Linked DNA regions of Homo sapiens. The protein of the gene in region 3 purifies or fractionates together with the protein of the main gene of each other region. This does not show direct contact. Each region holds a gene or a part of one and is shown on either strand. Other genes may lie near its edges.

Evidence for each region.
Region 1: the proteins of STMN3 (region 3) and CHAC2 purify together in Homo sapiens (affinity purification with mass spectrometry; one large-scale study listed by BioGRID and IntAct). This does not show direct contact.
Region 2: the proteins of STMN3 (region 3) and RHEB purify together in Homo sapiens (affinity purification with mass spectrometry; one large-scale study listed by BioGRID and IntAct). This does not show direct contact.

The regions. Positions count from the first base shown.
Region 1 is NC_000002.12:53,773,101-53,775,706, reverse strand, and holds the end of CHAC2 (glutathione-specific gamma-glutamylcyclotransferase 2), read right to left. Parts: intron 1,566-2,606; coding exon 1,182-1,565; 3' UTR 511-1,181; downstream 1-510. UniProt on the Homo sapiens protein: Catalyzes the cleavage of glutathione into 5-oxo-L-proline and a Cys-Gly dipeptide. Acts specifically on glutathione, but not on other gamma-glutamyl peptides.
Region 2 is NC_000007.14:151,488,760-151,492,418, forward strand, and holds part of RHEB (GTP-binding protein Rheb), read right to left. Parts: intron 2,256-3,659; coding exon 2,184-2,255; intron 1-2,183. UniProt on the Homo sapiens protein: Small GTPase that acts as an allosteric activator of the canonical mTORC1 complex, an evolutionarily conserved central nutrient sensor that stimulates anabolic reactions and macromolecule biosynthesis to promote cellular biomass generation and growth.
Region 3 is NC_000020.11:63,646,804-63,650,462, forward strand, and holds part of STMN3 (stathmin-3), read right to left. Parts: intron 1-3,659. UniProt on the Homo sapiens protein: Exhibits microtubule-destabilizing activity, which is antagonized by STAT3.

The DNA.
Region 1 (2,606 bases), on a different chromosome or scaffold from region 3:
GTCAGGAGATCGAGACCAGCTTGGCCAACATGGTGAAACCCCGTCTCTACTAAAAATACAAAAATTAGCCGGGCGTGGTGGCACATGCCTGTAATCCCAGCTACGCGGGAGGCTGAGGCAGGAGAATTCCTTGAACCTGGGAGGTGAAGGCTGCAGTGAGCTGAGGTTGGCACCACTGCACTCCAGCCTAGGCAACAGAGCGATACTCCGTCTCAAAAAACAAAACAAAATTATAATTCCAGGAGGTGCCTGTTCTTGGCTTCTGCCAGAGGTTACACTTTCCAGCCTGTGGGATGGCCAGACGCAGGCTGCAAAGAAAAAAAAAATTTTATATGTATATATATGTATATACACACACACACACACAAATTGAGATAGTGACAGACAAAGAATTCCAAAAGCTGTTTTAAAAACTAAATTTTCATTATATGTGCCATTAATTTGTAGTATCAGCCCATCTTTTTCAGTTTTGGTATAAGATTAATACAAAGTGAATGACAGACTACATCATTAGTGATCATGATTTGTATAATGTAATTTATGCTTTAGTGAGTTATTTTCCATATAGTAAAATGCCTTTATTTAAAAAAGAAGAGGTACAGTACATTATAATTCCAAGGAAATTTTCGTATTTTAAAAATGCCAATTTTTGGCTAAAAACTCAAAAGATTTCATTTAATACTTGAATAACAAGGAAATTCACAATTAAGGCTGAAATACTGTTCATATTATTGTGTATTTCTAAGCATGTTATTTTAAGCTTGTGTATTTTAAACCATGGTTACAGAATTGTATAGGAATATATTGAAGGCATAACCTTATATTTATTGGAATTTTGGTTTAATTGTTTAGAATTTCAAAATAGTATTGGGATGTGAAACAGGATGATTATCACTCTGATAAAAACAAGACTGAACTGAGTCCTTCACTGTATTTTTCTAAAGAACTCACTTCTAGTGAGTAAGTGTTCAATAACATAAAGTTAGGAAATCTTTATGTTATTAAAATTTGAATTTTTCTTTCACTGTATCCCAATATTTTAAATATGTGTTTCAGGACATTTCCAGTTAAAATAAAAGTTTAAATAATATCCTCACTACATTAAAAATAAGATCTTTAAGTAAACGTATTTCCAAATCATATTGTCATTGTGCACTGAAGTTAATTCTCTGAAGACTAAATTATATGCAATTGAGGTTCTGTTTCCCTTCTAAACGTTCCTTTACTAATTTTTCCAAAGCGAAAAGATGCTCATCTGCTTCTTCTGGCACAAGGTTCCTAATAGAATTTGCAAGTTCAAAAAGATATTCTGTATTTCTTCCACTTGGACCAGCTGCATTAAAAATTTGTTCAGCAATGTCTTCCAGAGGTGCAGGACCAAGATAATCAGGATTATCACATGTTCCAATATATAGCAATACACTGAATGGTTTTGTTGTGGGATCTTTTGGATAAAAAATGACTGTTGTGGTTCTGTAGCCTCCTTTTTCTCTGAAGTCAAGGTATGCTTTTACTTCTTCTTCCTTTCCTACTGGCAATCTGTAAGCAACACCCCATACACATCCCTGTTGAAAAATGAAAAGAATACACTGGTATTATAAGGCTAATTAAAATAGGTGAAGAAAGGTTGTGATCTAAGGGAGTATCTCATATATTCTTTTCTGTTTGTTTTTGAGATGAAGTCTTGTCTGTTGCCCAGGCTGTGGTGCAGTGGCACGATCGTGGCCTACTGCAACCTCAGCCTCCCGGGTTCAAGCTATTCTCCTGCCTCAGCCTCTCAAGTGACTGGGATTACAGGAATGCACCACCATGCCCAGCTAATTTTTGTATTTTTAGTAGAGAAGGGGTTTTGTCACGTTGGCCAGGCTGGTCTCAAACTCCTGACCTCAAGTGATCCACCTGCCTCGGCCTCCCAGTGTGCTGGGATTACAGGTGTGAACCACCATGCCTGCCTGTATCTTGTATATTTTTAAAAGTGGGCCAGGAGCGGTGGCTCACGCCTGTAATACCAGCACTTTGGGAGGCCGAGGTGAGTGGATCACGAGGTCAGGAGTGGAAGACCAGCCTGGCCAAGATGGTGAAACCCCGTCTTTACTAAAAATACAAAAATTAGTCAGGCACAGTGGCAGGCACTTGTAATCCCAGCTACTCAGGAGGCTGAGGCAGGAGCATTGCTTGAACCCGGGTGGCAGAGGTGGCAGTGAGCCGAGATCATGCCACTGAACTCAAGCCTGGGTTATAGAGTGAGACTGTCTCAAAAAAATAAAAAATAAATAAAAGTCAATACAGTTTTTCTTCACTTAAAGTGCACAGAAGAACATACTAAACAATAAAGGAAATAAGCACTTTAAAATCTCCATTGTGAATAATTTCTTTGTATCATAGGCACAGCAAGATATTTTATCTTAAAAAAATTTTTTTTTAATTTGGTCTTTTTCTTTAATAACGGGACTGAAATGAAAAATATGAGCCTTTCACTTGGTCATTAAAAAATTCTAGAAACAAAGTGCCATTTGTTTATTAACTGTTTAATTAGGAGTTATAAGTTACCAATTTGAAGATCTTTTTTATAAATGCTTTTCGTAGTATCAATTATGAAAGCATTT
Region 2 (3,659 bases), on a different chromosome or scaffold from region 3:
GAGAAAAAATTTAAAATATGACCAAAGATGATGTTGATAGCCTCAAAAAAGTAGGGTCATATTACTCTGTTTCTGAGATAACATCAAGTTACATAAGTTGGACTTTCTTCTGATCCATTACTTACTAAGAAAATGTATGTATATATAGCTCCATGATACACAACTCCATGACTTTCCTTCCAACTCAGTTTTTACTTTTGAGACCACATCTTGCTCTGCTGCCCAGGCTGGAGTACAGTGACATGATTACAGATCACTGCAGCCTCAAACTCCTGGGTTCAAGTGATCCGCCTGTCTCAGCTGAGACTACAGGCACACACCATCACGCCCAGCTAATTCCAGCTCAGTATGAAATGGCATGAGGATACAGCCACAATATCCACTTTTAGAGGCAGAGCTTACGAAGAAAACAATCTTCTATTGTTCTGTTAATACAATTCCAAAATGAACCTTATTATTTCAAGGATCTAAAATCCTAAATTGCTTTGTATAGCAAATATTAAGGTCCAAGATGATGATTTTCTTATGTTCTTATTCCAGTGGACAGAAAACCGAGCTTGTTCATCCAGCACTCACATTAATCTGCTCCTCACACTTGCTTACTATTATATAATGACCAGCTAGACAAATCATAGGATGTAATCAGGACTCCTCCCTGTAGATACCCAGAGGTTACTTTCAAATATAACATCTTGAAAGGTTACTTTCAAAAATATTCCTGGAGTTAGTTTATCAACCAACAGGTTTCCTTCTCTGCTACCAGCACACTGGAACACAAAGGACAGCCAAATATTTTAAGCGAGGGGTGAGCAAACTTTTTCTGTAAAGGGCCAGACAGTACCAGTAAATATTTTAGGCTTTGTAGGCCACCTGGTCTCTGCTCTTACTATTCAACAACTCTGCCATTGTACAGCATGTAAAGGACAACATGTAAAGGAACAAGCATGGCTGTGTATCAATAAAACTTTATAGAGGTTAACATTTGAATTTCATATAATTTTCACATGCCAGACATTATTCTTCTTTGGACTTTTATATATTATGCTTAAATGGAAAAACCTTTCTTAGCTCTTGGTCTGTATAAAGACAGGAAATGGGCCTTGCTGGCCTGCAGGCTGTCGTTTGCCAAGCTCTTTACTGTCAGCCAAAGCATTCAAGTGATTCTCTTGCAAGCCTCCGGCCGGTGAAATATGCTTCGTGTCTAATATGCCAATCAGGTGTTGATGAATCCCATGTTTAAATCTACATGTTCCTGGTGACAAATCCTAGATAAGTCCTGGTCTCAAGAATCTGAGAAACCTAGTTCCAGGGCCCACCTGGGGTTCTAAGCCTGAAAAGACCAGCTTCCCTGCTTCAGATTATCCTTGGCGATCCCTAGAATCAAGATCTGTCTCAAAGCTGGGCACAGTGTTGTATGCCTGTAGTTCCAGCCACCTGGGAGGCTGAGGAAAGAGGATCACTTGAGTCCAGGATATTGAGTCCAGCCTGGGTAACACTGTGAGACTCATGTCTCTTTAAAAAATAAAATAAAATAAATAAATAGTCTCATGGTCCTAGAATCCATCAGGAATATTCTGAAACCATGGATTAAAATTGAACAAAGTAAAGGTCATGGCTGGTTCTGTCTTCCCTGCTTTTTTCTGCACATGGCCTAAAATGTCAACAGGCTTTTTGAGCCAACTTCTTTTTAATGCTGCAACTGCTCTATCCAATCCCAGAATAGTTCATTTCTCTTTCAAATCTTTAGGGCTGGAAAGAAGGGTATAGAGAAATGTGGGTGGGAGTACGGCTTCTGTAAGAATAAGGAACAGGGATCTCGAGTGTTTTTCATTCTTTCAAGCTTGGAATCCCTGGAAACTGCAATGGCTGGGAGAAAGGGGGTGTGGGGGAGAAGACTGTGCTCTCCATTCCTGTTTTGGAGCAGATTCTGGAATTTGAAGATTCCAGTAATGGGCCAGACTCCTACTGACTTGAATTAATAATTTCTAGATGGCAGGGGATGCAGACATGGAAGGAAAAATCTTTCAGGGTAAAGTAGGTAAATCTTTTGCAAGTTTTCTTTGACCCCAATTGGGAGACACACAGAATTTACCTCCTGCACTCAAAGCCTCCATGAATACACAATGGCTATTTTACACAAAAGAAGGCTTCTCAGTTTTTAAGTACTTGAAAACAATACTTACTGTTTTCTATGGTTGGATCGTAGGAGTCCACAAATTGGCCTTCAACAAATTGAATCGTCAATGAGGATTTCCCTATAAAAGAGAACAAGAGCTTAGTGTGTGTTGGCATATGAAGGTAAAAATTTTTAATTTTGCTGTTTTATTAAAAAACCATTAATAGATGAAGACACTGAAGGTATCAGGGTCAGAAAACATTCATTTAATTAGCATGTGAGCAATTTCAAAAAATGAAATAAATTTCATTAATTTGCTTTATATGAGGATATTATGCAATTAAGCTATTACAAAGTAAACATGTCTGTGACATTAACAAATATTACTGACCAACAAGCACATCAGATATTCTGTTAAAGATAATCTAAAAGGTTTAAAGTAAGCTAATTTCCTCTAGTATTCTTGGAATCTTGCTATTTAATTTTAATATGAAAATTAAAATGATTAGTTTCGTTGTATTCATTCATATATGACGGTTAGAAGTGTTACCAAGTACAGCTTTTAAAAAGAGTAATCCGGCCAGGCACCATGGCTCACGCCTGTAATCCCAGCACTTTGGGAGGCTGAGGCAGACGGATCACCTGAGGTCAGGAGTTTGAGACCAGCCTGGCCAACATGGCGAAATCCCGTCTCTACTAAAATTAACAAAAATTAGCTGGGTGTGGTGGCGGGCACCTGTAATCCCAGCTACTTGGGAGGCTGAGATAATAGAATTGCTTGCCCCCAGGAGGCAGAGGCTGCAGTGGGCCAAGATTGCACCACTGCACTCAAGCCTGGGCGACAGAGCAAGACCCTGTGTCAAAAAAAAAAAAAGGGTAATCTGAAAATATGTAACATAAGTCTTTATCTTAAAAACTCCTTTGAAGCTAGAAATCCTATGTCATTCAGTATGAAAGGCCTAGCAGTATCTAGAAATTAAGAAATGTTATGGATTTCACAAAATCGCCAATAATTGAACTTGTATGTTAATAAATCAACAACTAGAGCCTTAGCTTCTCACTCTTCTGCTACCTAAAATGTCTACTGGAGGACTTTAGAACAGGGTACATGCCCTGTGAAGAAATCGCATGAGATGCATAGTTCAGATGACTTTATCACCAGGAATGAGGAAGTGGTCTCTCCCTAATTTCACCTCCAAACCCTTCCTTCTCTCTTGCATCCTTGGAGCATTATTACACACATGCTGTATATGCCTGGCATACTTAACTCCATCACAACAGGACGTGCAGTGAGAGTGAAGGAGAGGCATGGTAACACCCATCTTACACTACTGGGTTTAATTTATGCTTGTTTCTCCTCCAAACTATGGATAGGTATAGTTGCACAATGTTTTCACACCAAAGGCATTCCTTAAAATTTAAATTATTAAAAAGTTGGCTTAAAAGTAGTGGTTGCTGGCCGGGTGTGGTGGCTCATGCTTGTAATTCCAGCACTTTGGGAGGCTGAAGCGGGTGGATCACCTGAGGTCTGGAGTTCGAGACC
Region 3 (3,659 bases):
TTTCTTTTTTTTTTTATCTCTGCTCACTGCAATTCCGCCTCCTGGGTTCTAGCGATTCTCCTGCCTCAGCCTCCCAAGTAGCAGGGATTACACGCACATGCCACCACACCCGGCTAATTTTTGTATTTTTAGTAGAGACAGGGTTTCACTATGTTGGTCAGGCTGGTCTTGAGCCACCGCGCCCGCCCGGCCTACACACCAGCTTAAAAAAAAGAAAAAAATAGCTGGGCGTGGTGGCTCATGCCTGTAATCCCAGCACTTTGGGAGGCTGAGGCAGGCAGATCACCTGAGGTCAGGAGTTCAAGACCAACCTGGCCAACATGGCGAAACCCTGTCTCTACTACAAATATAAAAATCAGCCAGGCGTGGTGGCGGGCTCCTCTAATTCCAGCTACTTGGGAGGCTGAGGCAGGAGAATCACTTGAACCCGGGAGGTGGAGGTTGAAGTGAGCCAAGATCGAGCTACTGCACTCCAGCCTGGGAGCAAGACTCCCGTCTCAAAAAAAAAAAAAAAATTTGTAGTGGTATGGAGGCCGGGCATGGTGGCTCACGCCTGTAATCCCAGAACTTTGAGGGGCCAAGGCGGGCAGATCATGAGGTCAGGAGTTCGAGACCAGCCTGACCAACATGATGAAACCCTGTCTCTACTAAAAATAACAAAAATTAGCCAGGCATGGTGGCGGGCACGTGTAGTCCCAGCTACTCGGGAGACTGAGACGGGAGAATCGCTTGAACCCAGGAGGCAGAGGTTGCAGTGAGCTGAGATCACGCCACTGCACTCCAGCCTGGGTGACAGAGTGAGACTCTGTCTCAAAAACAAACACAAACAAACATATATATATATACATGTATATATATAATATATATATACGTATATATACACGTGTATATATATAATATATATACACGTGTATATATATTATATACATATATATACACGTGTATATATATAATATATATACATATATACACGTGTATATATATAATATATATACGTATATATACACGTGTATATATAATATATATACGTATATATGTATATATTAATATATATACGTATATATACACGTGTATATATTAATATATATACGTATATATACACGTGTGTATATATTAATATATATACGTATATATGTGTGTGTGTGTATATATATATGTATATATATATATATATATACATATATATATACAGAGAGAGAGAGAGTAGTGATAGGTCTTGCTGTCTTGTCCAGGCTGATCTTGAACTCCCGGCCTCAAGAGACCCTCCCACCTCAGCCTCCCAAAGCACTAGGATTATAGGTGTAAGCCACAGTACCTAGCCTATTAAAAATTAATGTTAAACAAGAGGATGTGATGAGGGAGTTAGAGGGTGTGCCAGCCATGTGTTCCACAGCAGCAGGTCAGGAGACATTGGGGACATTTAGAGGAGCTGAAGAGGTGGCCAACCCTGTGCTCAGGAGGACGGGGGAGGGAGAGAGCAAGAGGGAGTTTGGGCTGGGGCAGAACGTACCTGGGTCCTGAGAGGATAAGAAGGTAGGGACTTGGCCCCTCCAGGCCTGACTCTGCCAGCAACCAGCTCCCTATCAGCAGACTCCAGGCCCCTACCCTTCAGCTCATCCTTCCTTATCACACATCCAAAACTCTGAATGTGGCCGGGCGCAGTGGCTCACGCCTGTAATCCCAGAACTTTGGGAGGCTGAGGCAGGAGGATCGCTTGAGAACAAGAGTTTGAGACCAGCCTAGGCAACATGGTGAAACCCCATCTCTACTAAAAATATAAAAATTAGCTGGGTGTGGTGGCACATGCCTGTTGCCCCAGCTACTCAGGAGGCTGAGGCAGGAGAATCACTTGAGCCTGGAAGGCGGAAGTTGTAGTGAGCAGAGATTGTGCCACTGCGTTCCAGCCTGGGCAACACAGCGAGACTCTGTCTCAAAAAACAAAAACTGGAATGTGTTTACCATAAAGGCCAGAAAATGTGATTAACAGCTGCTCAAAGCCCCTGTCTGCCCTAAGCCTGAAATTTTCACCGAAAAAAAGATCTGTAGGCTCATACAGAGGAAGGACAAACACCAGGGAGGCTCTCTTCCAGTTTGCTTCACCTCAGCAAGCAGACGGCTGGCAGCAATTTGGGGGCAGGTGTGAGCACCTGCATCATCAGGAAAGAAGGGGCACGGTGGGGACGCAGGTCAGACCTCTCACAGGTCTTGGCTCTGCCCAGGAGACACGTGTCCAACTGAGAGGTGAGGAACTGGGTTCTGCAGCTGCAGACACAGGTGCGGCTCAGCATCTGATGGCCACGGAGACCCCCTGGCTTGGCTTCTCCCAGCTGGTGGCCCATGAGGAGCTTCTATCCCAAGAGACTGTCCCTCAAGGAGCAAGTGGGACCAGGTACCCACAGGACGGAGCCTGGGAGTGAGGCCTGCCCTGTGGTCTGGCTACAGGGAGGAAGGGCAGATTGGAGGGGGCAGGACAGCAGGTCAGGAATTGGCCAACTCTGGAGAGAGCAAGCAAGGGGAAGTCTGCGCACAGGGCAGGGCTGGTCAGGGGCGAGGCAGGGCATTGGACCAGTATTTTCAGAGCTGGTGAGGCTTAAAGAGCATGTCTACTGCCTCTTATTACAGAGAGAGGATGCCGAGGCCCAGACCCATCCAGGCCACCTCTCCACAGACACAGCTGGTGCCAGGGAAGCCCCTCCCAGAGCCTCAAGGCATTGCTCCCTCTCTCTCTCTCTTTTTGTTTTTTTGGAGACGGAGTCTCACTCTGTCTCCCAGGCTGGAGTGCAGTGGTACAATCTCGGCTCACGGCAAGCTCCGCCTCCCGGATTCACGCCATTCTCCTGCCTCAGCCTCCCGAATAGCTGGGACTACAGGCGCCCGCCACCACGCCCAGCTAATTTTTTGTATTTTTAGTAGAGACGGGGTTTCACTGTGTTAGCCAGGATGGTCTCGATCTCCTGACCTTGTGATCCGCCCGTCTCAGCCTCCCAAAGTGCTGGGATTACAGGTGTGAGCCACCGCGCCTGGACTTTTTTTTTTTTTTTAAGACGGGGTCTCACTCTGTCACCCAGGCTGGAGTGCAGTGGCGCGATGTCGGCTCACTGCAACCTCTGCCTCCCCAGTTCAAGTGATTCTCCTGCCTCAGCCTCCCAAGTAGCTAGAATTACAGGCACATGCCACCATGCCCAGCTAATTTTCTGTATTTTTAGTAGAGATGAGGTTTCACCATGTTGGCCAGGCTGGTCTTGAACTCCTGACCTCCGGTGATCTGCCCACCTCAGCCTCCCAAAGTGCTGGGATGACAGGCGTGAGCCCCCGCGCCTGGCCCCCCGCAGTGCTGGGATTACAGGCGTGAGCCCCCGCGCCCGGCCCCTCCCTCTCTTTGACTCCCTTCTTTCTCACCGCCCCCTCCCCACCATCCTTCCCCTTCACTGACTTCAGGGAGTTAAAAACAATTCTCGCAGTGAGCTGGGCTTGTTTTGTCTCCCTGCTTCTCTTTGTACTAAACATTAGATACCGAGGAAATGCGGATTGGCCTTTGGATGATTCATGAGCAGGAGTCAGAAAAAGGCACCAGGTTGGCCTCAAGCAGCAGGGTATAGTAGTGCCCGCTCCCAGGGTCACACCTCACGCCCACCCCTCCCGCCGTCCAGGTGGATGGT